Regions from separate parts of the Homo sapiens genome. Here all the other regions are reported to be linked to region 1. Evidence: microRNA targets listed by miRTarBase, many of them from high-throughput screens and not tested one by one. Region 1 holds a microRNA gene; each other region holds the end of a gene's coding sequence.
Evidence for each region. The annotated mature microRNA hsa-miR-628-5p reads AUGCUGACAUAUUUACUAGAGG and lies in region 1 at 2,327-2,348, opposite strand. An mRNA with a match to its seed (bases 2 to 7 or 8) in the 3' UTR can be bound and repressed. Matches are read on the target gene's strand: a 7mer-m8 pairs with bases 2 to 8, a 7mer-A1 pairs with bases 2 to 7 and ends in A, and an 8mer does both.

Region 1 (5,000 bases):
AGGAGATTGAGACCAGCCTGGCCAAGATGGTGAAACCCCGTCTCTACTAAAAATACAAAAAAATTAGCTGGGCGTGGTGGCAGGCGCCTGTAGTCCCAGCTACTCAGGAGGCTGAGGCAGGAGAATCACTTGAACCCAGAGGCAGAGGCTGCATTGAGCCAAGGTCGCACCACTGGACTCCAGCCTGGGCGACAGAGTGAGACTCCGTCTCAAAAAAAAAGAAAAAAAAAAAAAAAAAGACTTCGAGACCAGCCTGGCCAACATGGCAAAACCCCGTCTCTACTACAAATATAAAAAAATTAGCCAGGCATGGTGGCGGGCGCCTGTTATCCCAGTTACTCCGGAGGCTGAGGTAGGAGAATTGCTAGAACCCTGGGAGTGGAGTTTGCATTGAGCTGAGATTGTGCCACTGCACTCCAGCCTGGGCGACAGAGTGGGACTCCGTCTCCAAAAAACAAAGGAGAGAGTCAATGGGTGAGGCTCCTAAATGAAAAAGTAAAGTAACACCAATAGAATACCTTCCTCTTCTCACCCAAAAGGCATTTAAAAGCTTTGAATTGATAAGATAATCAACATATATAAACAGTATCAATCATAATAAAGAGCAAAGTATAAGAACAAAGATGACAAACTCTCAATTCATGTGAATCACAGAAGCAACAATGAAAGTTACAAAGTATGATACTTACATGAAACCTCAAAGTAGAAATAATGAACACTTATTATTTACACATTTCAAATGTAACTATTTCAACTGGGATTTAAATAATCTTCCTAATAAAGTCACACTTCAACTTAGTTTAAGTGTGATTCTAAATGTAAATGATTTGCCTCATGGTGAGCATTTCAGATTTTTAATCTTCCAATCTTTTAACTTTAAAAGAGTCACAAACATATATGGTTATTATCCTTACATTTCTTAATAACTACTACCTTATTTAAATAAAAAGCTTTGTGAGATAGGCAGCACCCACTTCCCGAATGAGAAAACTGAGGCTCAAACAGGCTTCAAGTTTTCAAGGCCACACATTTAATAATGGCACTGAAAACAGATCCCAAGAGTCCTCACTCTTAAGTTCCTCTACACTATCCCATCAGGTTATGTATAACACATTTTTGAGTACTTACCATAGAAATGGCCAAATCCCATGCTGATTGCAATCACCAAAGCAAGTATAACACACTTATTGAGACCACTACTGAACTGACGTTTACTCAACTCCTTAGAAGGTTCAGTTTCTTGTTCAGCAACTAGCCGGTCTTCAGATTCTGAAGCAGAAACGGTCTTCTTCCTAGCACGGCGTCGTCTAAAGGCAGGACTGGGCTGATTACTGGTTTCATCACTACTTGATTCATCGTCACTAGGCTGAGATGAAAATACTATTAAGAAAAAAGTTGACATTTAGCTATTCAAAATCTTGGAAAAGCTTTCCCAGTAAAAATTATTTAGAATAATCAATGCCATCCCTTACATGCCTTTCTACATAAGATAGCCAAAAACAAAAACCAAACAACATAAACAAAAACACGGGTTTTCAACTCATCAACATAAAGCCAAAACATAAAGCATTTCAAATGTGATACACAAGAATCTGTTAATCATACTATTTGGTGCTTTGAGAGCCTATCTCTGTTTTTTTATTTAATCCTCCTCGCCTTATAGTTTACACTCTTAGAACAATCCTTCATTCGCATAGCCTCAAGTTTCATTGCTGGCCAGGAGCAGTGGCTCACGCCTGTAATCCCAGCACTTTGGGAGGCCGAGGCGGGCAGATCACCTGAGGTCAGGAGTTCGAGATCAGCCTGGCCAACATGGCGAAACCCCTTCTCTACTAAAAATACAAAAATTAGCCGGGCATGGTAGTGCACCTATAGTCCCAGCTACTTGGGAGGCTGAGGCAGGAGAATCACTTGAACCTGGGAGGTGGAGGTTGCAGTGAGCTGAGATCCTGCCACTATACTCCAGACTGGGAGACAGAGCAAAACTCTGTCTCAAAAGAAACAAAATTTCATTGCTATTACAGGTATAAACAAGTATTATTTCTGGAAAGAAAAAAAATACTCTCTGTCTCTTCATTCAGTTTCAAAGAGGTAATTTAAGTGCAACTATTTAAGGAACACAGGAAAGTACACAAGCATTTCCTGTGACTTATAAAGTAAAATAACTACCAAAAGTTTCCTTGGGTGTATCTGGTCTCTAGTTTCATTTCCAACCTAATTAGCCCATGATCAAGGTTCAAAGCACTGTATTTTAACATAGGTTTCCAGAAGTCAGATGAGCCCTTCCCTTCGACTGCCACTCTTACTAGAAGGTTATTAATTTTACCCTCTAGTAAATATGTCAGCATGAGGAAGTGACACAACAGCTATCTCCGATATTAAGGACTATTCTGGTGCTGCTCCTTTATGAAAATAATAGTAGAGAAAAACAAACTAGTGGGGAAAATTTGCACAAGAAATCCCAAGTCCAGGAAACAAATTCCCTGGAAAAAATCACCTTCAGTTTTTTCCAAATGCATAATTTCTTAACACTGTTTCTTATGTCAACAAACTATTATGTTGACACAGAAGCTTCAATTACTCAGAAATAATTTCCACAAGCTACTTAGAGGAAAAGCACTAAAAATAAGGATAAAATATGAACTCGAATACAAAGAGCTCTAAAACAACAAACATTCATGCTCCAGAAAAGCAAAAACAGTTCTTCAGAAGACAGGATATCCATGCCACAGGAAAGCTGGTGATTTAGGTTAGGCAATATTTTTCAGAGATGGATCATGGAGTATTCAGTTCACTTTCACACTTACAACAATAAACACAAAGACAGAAGGCACTACTGAAATGAATGAATATTCCTAATATTTAGTGATACAGATGCCACTGAGAGATCTTTTTGGTCATGACCCTTATGCCCATCATGTTTATCTGGTTATTCTTGATCACTAGTTTTTCAAAGATGCCGTCGCCTCAGGTGTGAGATTATATTTCTTGGACAAAGAGAAAGAAAGGAAGACTTAAACAAAGCATTACATAATACAAAGGCATTCATGATCATGGTTAGAGTATTTAAGTCAGGCTTTCTGACATAAAATTAAGATAGGTAAATGTAAAAACAAACCATTTGTAAAACTTATTTAAATAATTGTTCAATTCTACATTAACATTACCTTCATTATATATTCTAACAAAACAGCCTAACCCACATTAATATATTCATGTCCTTATCTAATGCTTCCAACTTTTTTAACCCATACATATAATAGCTGAAATATTTTGATTTTTAACTTCTTTTAAAAAAGCTTAATTTGGCCCATAGATGCAAGCAATGCAAAGGCATGCAATAAGCTTGGCCAGCTCCTTTACAAGAGATTCTGAACACCTGTTTAGAGTATTGCGGATGACAACAGGTATCTTTAAAGCACTCGGTAAATAGTAAATGTGACTAGGCACACTCAGCTCTAGAGAAGCTGGTCAGATTTAGTCACACCACCTTGGAAAGCGAGTTGGCTAGGAACATGGTGTTTCAGCTGATCATCCCATCCCCATATGCACTCAGGAATCTTCCACAGCTTCTCCCACCACCTTTCTTTTGTGAATAAACAGGAAAAAAAGAGGCATAAAGCTATATTATAAAGACTAAAAAGAAAAAAAAGAATTAAAAATACTTAATTATCACTTAACATTGTTATCCGTACAAAATTAAAACGTAATAACCATGCCTTCTTAAAAACACACAATACAAACTTCTCTACACTACCAACTTTGCTTTTTGTCAGGGAAGAGAGTTCATAAAGAGGAAGCAGGCAGTGTTCTTAACCCAACAAAACGTACACTGCCACAAGAATATAAGTCAGGAGAAGAAAAAATTGAAGTTGAAATCCTTAAGGATGAAGAAAGGGAAAGGAAAAAACAAAATTAAGCAATGGCTAGCACAAAATTAACAAACTAAAAGGGAAAAACAAAAACCATCTTTTTTATTTTTTTGAGACGGGGTCTCCCTCTATTGCCCAGGCTGGAGTGCAGTGGCGCAATCTTGGCTCACTGCAACCTCCGCCTCCTGGGTTCAAGAGATTCTCCTGCCTCAGCCTCCAGAGTAGCTGGGATTACAGGCCTGCGCTACCACAGGCAGCTAATCCCAAGTAGCTGGGATTACAGGCACCTGGCTAAATTTTGTATTTTCAGTAGAGAAGGGTTTTTGCCGTGTTGGTCAGGCTGGTCTCAAACTCCTTACCTCAGGTAATCTGCCTGCCTCAGTCTCCCAAAGTGCAGGGATTACAGGCATGAGCCAAAGTGCCCGGCCCCAAAACAAAAACTTTTGGCAACTGGTTTATATGCAGTGTTTTCAGTATAGTCCAAAATTTCGTCTTTAAACATTTGGTTTATTGAAACAATATCTTTAGGAGGAATAACAATGGGTAAAAATACAGTTAATCAAATATTCCTCTTAGTCCACAAAAATCTCAAGAAGTCAGAATTCAGAAAGAAGATAAATATTAGAAGAATGGTCTTAGAACTATACAACTTCCTGAAAAAAGTTAATATGTAATTTCTTTCTTTTTTTGAGATGGTGCTGGGATTACAGGCGTGAGCCACCACGCCCAGCAACAGTATGTAGTTCCTTTTACGTCTATGTCAGTTTCTTATATATCTGACCATTCTATAATACTCTGGCTTCAATTTGACTTTTCTGGGCCATGAATATTCTCTAATTAAACCAGAGGCAGGAAAGGAAGCGGGGGTGGGGAAACTACCTGAATACAACACAAATCCTGGAGTTTAAAAAAATAATAATAAAATTTGATGACTAACAAGGATTCTAAAATCAATTACAATACCCCTCCATAAATAAAGATACTATGAATGCTATTCTAACAAAGCCTGAAGTTTTCCTCTGAACATCAAGAATGTCACATGAATATTCAAATAGCTGGAAAAAGTGTTTTCACGTTCATGTTTATAGGCAAACCACTGATATACTAACTGAAAATAACTTCTCATTA
Region 2 (5,000 bases), not on the chromosome of region 1:
GAGGCAGGTTTGCACTAAGCAGTTTCCAGCTTGACTTTTCCCTTTAGCTTAGTGATTCTGGGGTCCCAAGATTTGCTTTCCTTTCACAGTTGTGACAAGGTTTTCAGAAATCCATTGTGGCAAAAAAGAAGCACCTGAACCTTTTTATTTGGGTAGAATAAAAACAGAAACAGTAACAGGATATTCAGATAATATGCTACAACCAGTTCCTTCCCTGTCCCTGACAAAGGTGCGCCAAGGGAAATTAAACCACAGGAAATGTTATTCATGTTAAAACAATCTATTCAGGACTCAAAACTACAAATCAAAGAAAATTTGAAAAACCTTTCCAATAAGTTTCAGTGAAAACATTCTTTATTAGTAAGCAGACATTTCAAACTTTTTGATTACATACATCATGCAAAATGACTGACCTCACAGATGGTTGTCTGTTCATTGTGACATCTTTTTTGAGATGATTATAAATTTAAGATGACTGCAGTAGTAAAAATAATTCATGAAAATGACTCTCAATGAAGCAAAACACTACATAGCACACATGAAATACTGTTCATCCCTCCTGGATGTTTAATTCTCTCCTAATGTAAATCTCTATCTTGGAAGACTATTATATACAAAAATGGCAGTTGTTTTTGTATGTGCATCTATAGGCACTCAACTGATAAAAACAAGAAAATTTCAAATAATTTTACAAGGATTGGTTATTTTTCCTGTTTTGTTAATCCAAAACAGGACAATGCCCTTTGATTTACAATGTTCAATTCTTTTAAGAAATCATTTTCTTCGGAAGATGATTTTGACCCATGAAAAAGTTGTTTTACCCCTGGTAATCTTTTTGAAATGGGGCTGGCTGTTACACATTATCCAAGTTGTTTTCAGTAAGTGAAAAGGAGTAGGGCTTATTTTGAGAATTCCTCTATATTACGGCACTGAGAAAACTTCTCTGCAGTGGTGGGCTCACCACTTTCATCCTGTGGTAGTTCTGGTAGCACTCCCAGTGTGAAAACCCTAGCACAGGTAAATTCACCTCTTTGAAATAAACAGTGACCCTGGAGAAAGGTGAATTCCAAATCTAGTACCATATTCAAGTCATCTGGCAGAGAAGCAGGCATAAAAGAGTTTTCTAGGTACTTGAGGTGCTGCTGTAACAAATACCTAAAAGTAGAAAAGTGGCTCTGGAATTGGGCAGTAGGTGGAGGCTGGAAGAATTCTGAGGAGCATGCCAGAAAAGAAGCTAAACTGCCTTAAACAGACTGTTAGTAGAAATATGGAATGTTAATGCTAGGGCGGCCTTGAAGAAAGGAGCATAATAGAGAATACCTCGATTGCCATAGAATATCTAAATCATCATGAATAGACTGTTGGTAAAAAATGAGGAATATGTTACTGGAGAAGTGGAGGAAAGGAGTCCTTGTTACATAGTGGCGAAAAGCTAAGCTGAGTTGTGTCCTGCCGTTATGTGTAAAGCAGAACTTTTAAGTGATGACTTCAATATTTAGCTGAGGATATTTCCAAGCAAGCTGTGGAAGGTACAGCCTGCTGTCTTCTTGCTGATTATAGTAAAATGTGGAAAGAGGTAGATTGAGGGAAGACCTGTTAAATATAAAGAAACCAGGACTTGATGATTTGGGAAATTCGCGGCCTATTCAAATGGCAAAAGCCACTAAAACTAAGATTCACCGTCAGGACAGCCTTTACTCTAGAGAAAGTGATGAAGATATGGCTGTATAACCTTTTGCTAATACTTCAGAAACATCAAAAGGTCTGAATATCAGGTCACACACAAGACTCTTTGAAGATATTAAGGGTGTGAATCATAGATCCTCTCAGCTATTTCAGAAAAAGCCAAAAACAGAGACAGGATTTTCCAGGAAAGATACGTGAGGAGCCTCCTATCTAAATGAGTGCATCCCTGTGACATATGTAAAAGACCCACAAGTTTCTTGACAACGTTATAGCAGCAGAAGCACCACCATTTTTAACAGAAAGCTTTAGAGAATATAAAAGAAGAACAAACTGATAAGTTGATACTCAGCTGCAAACGTGTGCTACCTTTTGTGAAAAAGTAAAGATGACTCTGAGACAGTCAACAAGCCCAGAGAACAGCAGTGAGCTGAAGATTACTCCCAGGCCTTGAAACTTAAAGAAGGGTGCCTCGCTGGTTTTGTAAATTGATTGGTGCTGATGGCTCCTTTTTCCATCTGTTTCTGCTTTTTGAACAGGAACGTGTGTAACTATTATTGTCTGCCTGTCATGCCATCATACTTGGGAACAGATAACTTGTTTTCTAGGTTCACAAGTGCACAGTTGGAATTATGTCCCAGAAATCACACACAGATCCTCTCCCAAACTTAATTTAGATGGCTTCAATGTGAGATTTGAGACTTTTGAGTTGGTGAGACTCAGATAAGATTTTGGATTTAGAGTTGATGCTGTAATAATGGATTGTGACTTTTGAGCACCTATGAGTGATGTAAATTTATTTGTGATGAATCTGAATCTTTAACACAGGAGTGGAGCGGGGGGTGGGTGGGAACTGTAGTAGGCAAGAATAATGTTCCATGTAAAATGTTAATGTCCTAATCTCCAAACCTGTATGTAACCTTAGATGGTAAAAGAGATTTTGCAGATGTAATTAAGGTTACTATGGATTTCAAGACAAGGAGATAAGCCTAGATTGGATATCCGGTGGGCCTCATTTAATCATGAGTCCTGCAGAGAACCTCTCCACACTGGTGTCAGAGAGATGTGGTAACAGAAGGGTCATAGAGATGAAACAGCACTGGTTTTTAAGATGGAAGAAGGAGGTCACAAGCCAAGGAATGAGGATGTCCTGTAGAAGGTGGAATGACAAGGAAATGATTCTCCTGTAGAGCCTCCTAACAGAATGCAACCCTGCCAACAAATTGATCTTGGCACCGCGAAACTCTTAACCTGGACTCCTAACCTACAGAATTGTGAAGATAATAAATTTGTGCTATTTTAAGCCACATTTTGTAACTTGTTATGGTGGCAATGGAAAACTAACCAGAAGTAATAATTAAGGATGAAATGGTGTCTAGGAAGAAGGAAAAGCTTCTGGCTTCAGCAGAAATGCAAACATTTATGCTGGTAATTCTTTAGATCTAGTCCGTCTGACAGAATTTACATTCCTGTATTTCTACACTAGTCTTGTTCTGGAGAAGACATTCTAGGTTGAGCACACAGAATAGTGTTTAGTGTATACAGTGAGTTTCCTAGAAAAATGTGTTGAATGAATAAATGAATGTGATCAACGCAAGCTCTGGGAGGAACTGTAATTACTTGATTTTAAAATATTGTTGCTGTTTACCATATCTTCTTAAGAACTGCTGACCTTTAGGCTGGGCGTGGTGGCTCATGCCTGTAATCCCAGCACTTTGGGAGGCTGAGGTGGGTGGATCACCTGAGGTTCGGAGTTCGAGACCAGCCTGATCAACACAGAGAAACGCTGTCTCTAGCAAAAGTACAAAAATTAGCCAGGCATGGTGGCGCATGCCTGTAATCCCAGCTACTTGGGAGGCTAAGGCAGGAGAATCTTTTGAACCTGGGAGGCGGAGGTTGCGGTGAGCAGAAATTATGCCATTGCACTCCAGCCTGGGCAACAAGAGCAAAACTCCATATCAAAAAAAAAAAAAAAAAGAATTGCTGACCTTTATGTGTTTCTGTTTAAGTTCACAACAGTCATAATTCTGTAAAATACAAGGCAAAACTGTAGTTTCTGATACTAGTAATATATCTAAATCAGTAAGTAAAAAGGATGTGTAAAATCTTAATAGGAGAAATAATTATTGTATGATCAAACAATTTCAAAATCAAAAGACACGTTTCAGTATATATTATAGACAAATTTTCAACTTATTTGATCAAAAGATTTCTTAATGGCTGTTGGTCAATGCTGCATCAAGAAACTTTAGTGCAAATTTTACCAAATGCATTTATCAAAAAGGGGTTTTGTTCATTTTTCTCTGCAAACAAATGTTGTTACATTAACACTAAGCATGTAACAACTCATTTGCCTAGAAATCCAAAAACTATCAACATAAGCCAGTCCTTCAACTAAAAACTCAAACATACTTATCTCAAGGTCTATTCCTAATCCAAATTTGTCTATATTCAGATTGGAAGACAGAATAACAATAAAACCAAAATTTATCTGTAAAAATAATAAAAATAATTTGGCTGTTTTTAATGCTGAAGTATTGTCCTTATTAATACGGCACATCATCTATTCCCACATGCTACTGCATGGACAGGAACAATATTATTTTAGTTGCTGGAGTAACACAGTGTTAAGAATATCTGCTTCTAGCAGTGTCAGGCTTTCATCTGTTAGCTCTTTATTCGGAAATGAAGTCACAAGAATAAAGTCAAGAGCCGCAAATTCAGGACGAGACTGTACAATAAAGTTCCGGACATCCAGGATCCTGAAGAAATAAGACAAAAATAATTTGTAATATAAAAAATCATATTTTCATGTAAACTTAAAACTGAATCATAATAAAAATCACAAAATTTTAATCTTTATATAAAGGTGTTGTAACTTTCTTTAATATATAGTATTTCAATTGAAGGATTTATCTTAGGCTTCAGTTAAAATGTAAAGTAACTTTAGTGTGTACTTAACATTTACTTTTCCTGTAAAATGGAAACAATCTTCAGGTAAGTTATGAATAAAGTAAGTGTACTAATGTTGTTATTTTAAAAGTGCAGGTCCAGCTGGGCACGGTGGCTTACGCCTGTAATTCCAGCACTTTGGGAGGCAGAGGTGGGCAGATCACTTGAGGCCAGGAGTTCAAGATTAGCCTGGCTAACACGGTGAAAACCCCGTCTCTACTAAAACCAGAAAAAATTAGCTGGGCATGGTGGTGGCTGTCTGTAATCCCAGCTACTCAAGAGGCTGAGCATGAGAATTGCTTGAATCTGGAAGGCGGAGTTTGTAGTGGGCTGAGATTCCGCCACTGCACTCCAGCCTGGGAGAC
Region 3 (5,000 bases), not on the chromosome of region 1:
CAATGCCTTTCTTTACAGAATTGGAAAAAACTACTTTAAAGTTCATATGGAACCAAAAAAGAGCCCGCATCACCAGGTCAATCCTAAGCCAAAAGAACAAAGCTGGAGGCATCACACTACCTGACTTCAAACTATACTACAAGGCTACAGTAACCAAAATAGCATGGTACTGGTACCAAAACAGAGATATAGATCAGTGGAACAGAACAGAGCCCTCTGAAGTAACGCCGCATATCTACAACTATCTGATCTTTGACAAACCTGACAAAAACAAGCAATGGGGAAAGGATTCCCTATTTAATAAATGGTGCTGGGAAAACTGGCTAGCCATATGTAGAATGCTGAAACTGGATCCCTTCCTTACACCTTATACAAAAATCAATTCAAGATGGCTTAAAGACTTAAATGTTAGACCTAAAACCATAAAAACCCTAGAAGAAAACCTAGGCAATACCATTCAGGACATAGGCATGGGCAAGGACTTCATGTCTAAAACACCAAAAGCAATGGCAACAAAAGACAAAATTGACAAATGGGATCTAATTAAAGAGCTTCTGTACAGCAAAAGAAACTACCATCAGAGTGAACAGGCAACCTACAAAATGGGAGAAAACTTTCGCAACCTACTCATCTGACAAAGGGCTAATATCCAGAATCTACAATAAACTCAAACAAATTTACAAGAAAAAAACAACCCCATCAAAAAGTGGGCAAAGGACATGAACAGACACTTCTCAAAAGAAGACATTTATGCAGCCACAAAACACATGAAAAAATGCGCACCATCACCGGCCATCAGAGAAATGCAAATCAAAATCACAATGAGATACCATCTCACACCAGTTAGAATGGCAATCATTAAAAAGTCAGGAAACAACAGGTGCTGGAGAGGATGTGGAGAAATAGGAACACTTTTACACTATTGGTGGGACTGTAAACTAGTTCAACCATTGTGGAAGTCAGTGTGGCGATTCCTCAGGGATCTGGAACTAGAAATACCATTTGACCCAGCCATCCCATTACTGGGTATATACCCAGAGGATTATAAATCATGCTGCTATAAAGACACATGCACACGTATGTTTATTGTGGCACTATTCACAATAGCAAAGACTTGGAACCAACCCAAATGTCCAACAATGATAGACTGGATTAAGAAAATGTGGCACATATACACCATGGAATACTATGCAGCCATAAAAAATGATGAGTTCATGTCCTTTGTAGGGACATGGATGAAATTGGAAATCATCATTCTCAGTAAACTGTTGCAAGAACAAAAAACCAAACACTGCATATTCTCACTCATAGGTGGGAACTGAACAATGAGAACACATGGACACAGGAAGGGGAACATCACACTCTGGGGACTGTTGTGGGGTGGGGGGAGGGGGGAGGGATAGCACTGGGAGATATACCGAATGCTAGATGACGAGTTAGTGGGTGCAGCGCACCAGCATGGCACATGTATACATATGTAACTAACCTGCACAATGTGCACATGTACCCTAAAACTTAAAGTATAATAATAAAAGAAAAATAAATAAAATAAAAGAAAAAAGAAGAAAACCCCCCAAAAAAATTTTTTTTCTGAGTTCCATGTCTTCTAAAGAGTCATTGAACCTGAGGATGGCCTTGGGGTCTCTTGATCCCACTTTGTTGTCAAAATGGGATTCACTAGAATGTCTCTGAATCATTGAAACATGGCAAAAGCATGCTCAGAAAAGGAAGGATGAGTGGTGCTTATAAGGTGGTCTTATTGTGCCCCGACTGAATAGTGTCTTAGTCTTCTTGAACTATAGTCCTTAGATAACATTGAATGGGATTCTTGTTAAAAGCATCAAAGATATCTGAAATAGATCTATCCAGTTTTGAAAGTATCAGATTTGACCTGATATGCAATACAGGATATTGAAAGCTCTAAAATTGTCTTCATTTCTTTACAGATCTGGGTGAACCACTCTATAAAGCACAGAGAAAAATTCTTTCTTTGATATAGTTTTATAGAGACTGTGATACATGAAGTTACAGATTTGTGTGAGGTCATAGGTTTGTCTGAGTCACTGTATAAAGCACAGAAAAAAAAATTCTATCTTTGGCCCAGTTTCACAGAGACTGTAGGACATGAGGTCTAGAGAAGGACACTATACCAGGAAAATTTATTTTCTTCTCATAGCTTTAATTTAGTTTAATTTTTTGAGACAGAGCCTCACTCTGTCGCCCAGGCTCTGTTGCCCGGGCTGGAGTGCAATGGCACAATCTCGGCTCACTGCAACCTCCACCTCCCAGGTTCAAGTGATTTTCCTGCCTCATCCTCCTGTGTAGCTGGCATGACAGGCGTGTGCCACCACACTTGGTTAATTTTTGTATTTTTAGTAAAGGCAGGGTTTCGCCATGTTGGCCAGGCTGGTCTCAAACTTCTGACCTCAAGTGATCTGCCTGCTTCGGCCTCCCAAGTTGCTGAGATTATAGGCGTGAGCCACTGCACCTGGCCTCATAGCCTTTAAACCACCTCAGAGACCTTAATCTGGTGTCGAAAATTCAAACAACTTATTACCACTGATCTCTGGAAAGTTCATGATATTTTATCAATTGAAAATAATCACCCATGCATCAGCCTATTGTTTTTATAAAAGAAGCTTATTTAGCACAACCTATGCCTGAACATACTCCCAAGGAGATGTACAGAAAAATAAGGTATCTGTCTTCAAACAAACTTTACCTTTACATTTCAAACAAATACTATATTGCAATAAGTTCATGTGTGCCAAGACTATAATTACAACCTGGAGGCCCTAATTCCCTATTTTAACAGGCATTTTACGATGACTCTCCATGATCTAGGTACCATGGGCAACTTGGATCCTGATTCCAAGGGTCCTTGAAATATTTGGGTGTTTGTATTTCCCTAGTATATGGATATCTAGTAAATGGCTCCAGACGTTTCCTAGGAGGAGAACTTGGGAAATCATTATCATTTATTTGGGTCCTGGAGTTGCAGTGTCCTTTCCTGGGGTACTGCCCTCCACTCCAACTGAGTTCAGGGTCTGAAATTAGCTCAGATCAAGGCTATGGATGTGACACTTTATCAGGGCTACCTCTCAACATCCTGATAGACAGCATTTACTTCACTTGATTGTTTTCTCCCCATCCCATTTAACCCTATGGCTGGTCCATTGTATTGACCATCTTCAGAATTATCTCCATCAGGCCTTGCAGTCTGCCACTCATTACTATAACTGAATCTTCTTAGATTCTAACAATTAAGGGTCAACACCAGGCCTCTATGTGTCTGGGTCTATCATCCCCCATCAGGGGGTTCAGTTCTGGAAAGGCACATTGTCCTTTCTATCTGAGGCTACCGCAAAAAGACCACTACTGACAAGGTTGGCAGGATCCTTCCTATCAGTGCTTAATCTTAATGTTTGGTAATTTATGCTTCTAACACCTTAAAACTTGAATTCAGAGAAAGGAAGTAGAGGCTACTGTAGCTGAGATTTCAAAGGCCACAGAAAAGTGTATGCCTTAGTCTCGAAACAAATAGAAGGGATCGAAAAACCAGGCCAAAATGAAAACAAGAATATGATGCAAATTTTTTGCATTCTAGTACTCAGATCTTAGTCTTAGACCCCTCATTGGGCTGGCTGATGTAATTCCTAGAAGCAACAAGGAATTTCATCATCTGATAGCCAATTTCACTATTTTTTTATTGTTATCATTATTAGCATTGTCTCTTACATTTTCTTATTTATTTCTGAATCGGTAAAATAAGATTTCTTTACAAAATTCAAGAGTATAAAGTGAAGAGTATGTGTTCCTTCAACCCCTACATTCACTTGGTTCTTCCCAGAAGGAGCCAATAATAATAGATTTTGATTAATCTTTCCAGAGATATATTTGCATGCTTCCATATAATAATTGCATTTTTTCCATGCTGATAAGATAATCTACATTGCTTTACAACTTGGTTTTTTTTTTTTTCATTTTACAATGTCTCTTCAAGACCATTCTTTACTGGTACAAATAGAGCTTCATTGTCAATTTGTTTACTGGCTATATAATATTCCAGTACATGCACATACTAAAATTTATCTTACCAATCTAATGTGAAGGACATTCAAGTACATTGCAATATTTTGCCATTAAAAGCAATGCCTCAGTGGACCTCTTGTATGTAAATGATTTTTCAAAATTATATTTCCTAAAAGTGAACAAAGTTTTTCAAAGTGTGTATGGATCTGTTCTCTCATGTGGGCCAGGCACTGATATCCTCTAATAAGCACTTTTTATGTTTAAAACTTTGCTAAATGAGGGCTGGGCATGGTGGCTCATGCCTGTAAACCCAGCACTTTGGGAGGCCGAGGCGGGTGGATCATTTGAGGTCAAGAGTTCGAGACCAGCCTGGCCAACATAGTGAAACCCCATCTCTACTAAAAATACAAAAATTAGCTGGGTGTGGTGGTGTACACCTATAATCCCAGCTACTAGGGGGCTGAGGCAGGTGAATCTCTTGAACCCAGGAGGCAGAGGTTGCAGTGAGCTGAGATTGCACCACTGTACTCCAGCCTGGGCAACAGAGTAAGACTCTGAAAAAAAAAAAAAACTTGCTGAATGAAAATGAAAAACATACAGATCAAAAATAGTCCAAAGCATATATGTACAATCTATAATATCCTTAAAAGGGGAGCTTATGCTTTTTAAAGAGTGAGCTCACACCTTTGACACCATGACCAATTAATTTAGCAGGAGCAGACAATATTGCAGTTAGCTCATCGGCAAGGTTGTCCAAGGTTCGTGCAATCCAGGGAGTATCATCATTTTTTGTAGTATCAATCATACGTTTAAATTGACTTATCTCTGCATTCATCTCCTCATACTTCTTCTTAAATCCTTCATGAAGCCAATCATTTTGGACCTAAAGACAATGTAGGAAGGAAAGTAAATTTTTAAAAATCCCTATTCTTTTAAGACTTACATTTTGTATTTAAAACCTGTGTGAA

Region 2: the mRNA of UBXN2B is a reported target of hsa-miR-628-5p. Seed matches in the 3' UTR shown: 8mer at 3,664-3,671, 7mer-m8 at 3,349-3,355 and 7mer-A1 at 1,548-1,554.
Region 3: the mRNA of GBP6 is a reported target of hsa-miR-628-5p. Seed matches in the 3' UTR shown: 7mer-A1 at 4,605-4,611 and 7mer-A1 at 2,458-2,464.

The regions. Positions count from the first base shown.
Region 1 is chr15:55,370,665-55,375,664 of GRCh38, forward strand. MIR628 (microRNA 628) reads right to left here and starts at 2,370; the gene lies at 2,276-2,370. It overlaps CCPG1 (cell cycle progression 1), which reads right to left. Exons shown (of 9, transcript NM_001204450.2): 6 at 1,129-1,380. It overlaps DNAAF4-CCPG1 (DNAAF4-CCPG1 readthrough (NMD candidate)), which reads right to left. Exons shown (of 16, transcript NR_037923.1): 13 at 1,129-1,380.
Region 2 is chr8:58,446,834-58,451,833 of GRCh38, reverse strand. UBXN2B (UBX domain protein 2B) reads right to left here. Exons shown (of 8, transcript NM_001077619.2): 8 at 333-4,445. The coding sequence ends at 4,283. Among named protein-coding and RNA genes, the nearest start is that of UBXN2B, 38 kb to the right of the region's middle.
Region 3 is chr1:89,385,145-89,390,144 of GRCh38, reverse strand. GBP6 (guanylate binding protein family member 6) reads right to left here. Exons shown (of 11, transcript NM_198460.3): 11 at 1,985-4,915. The coding sequence ends at 4,676. Among named protein-coding and RNA genes, the nearest start is that of GBP6, 24 kb to the right of the region's middle.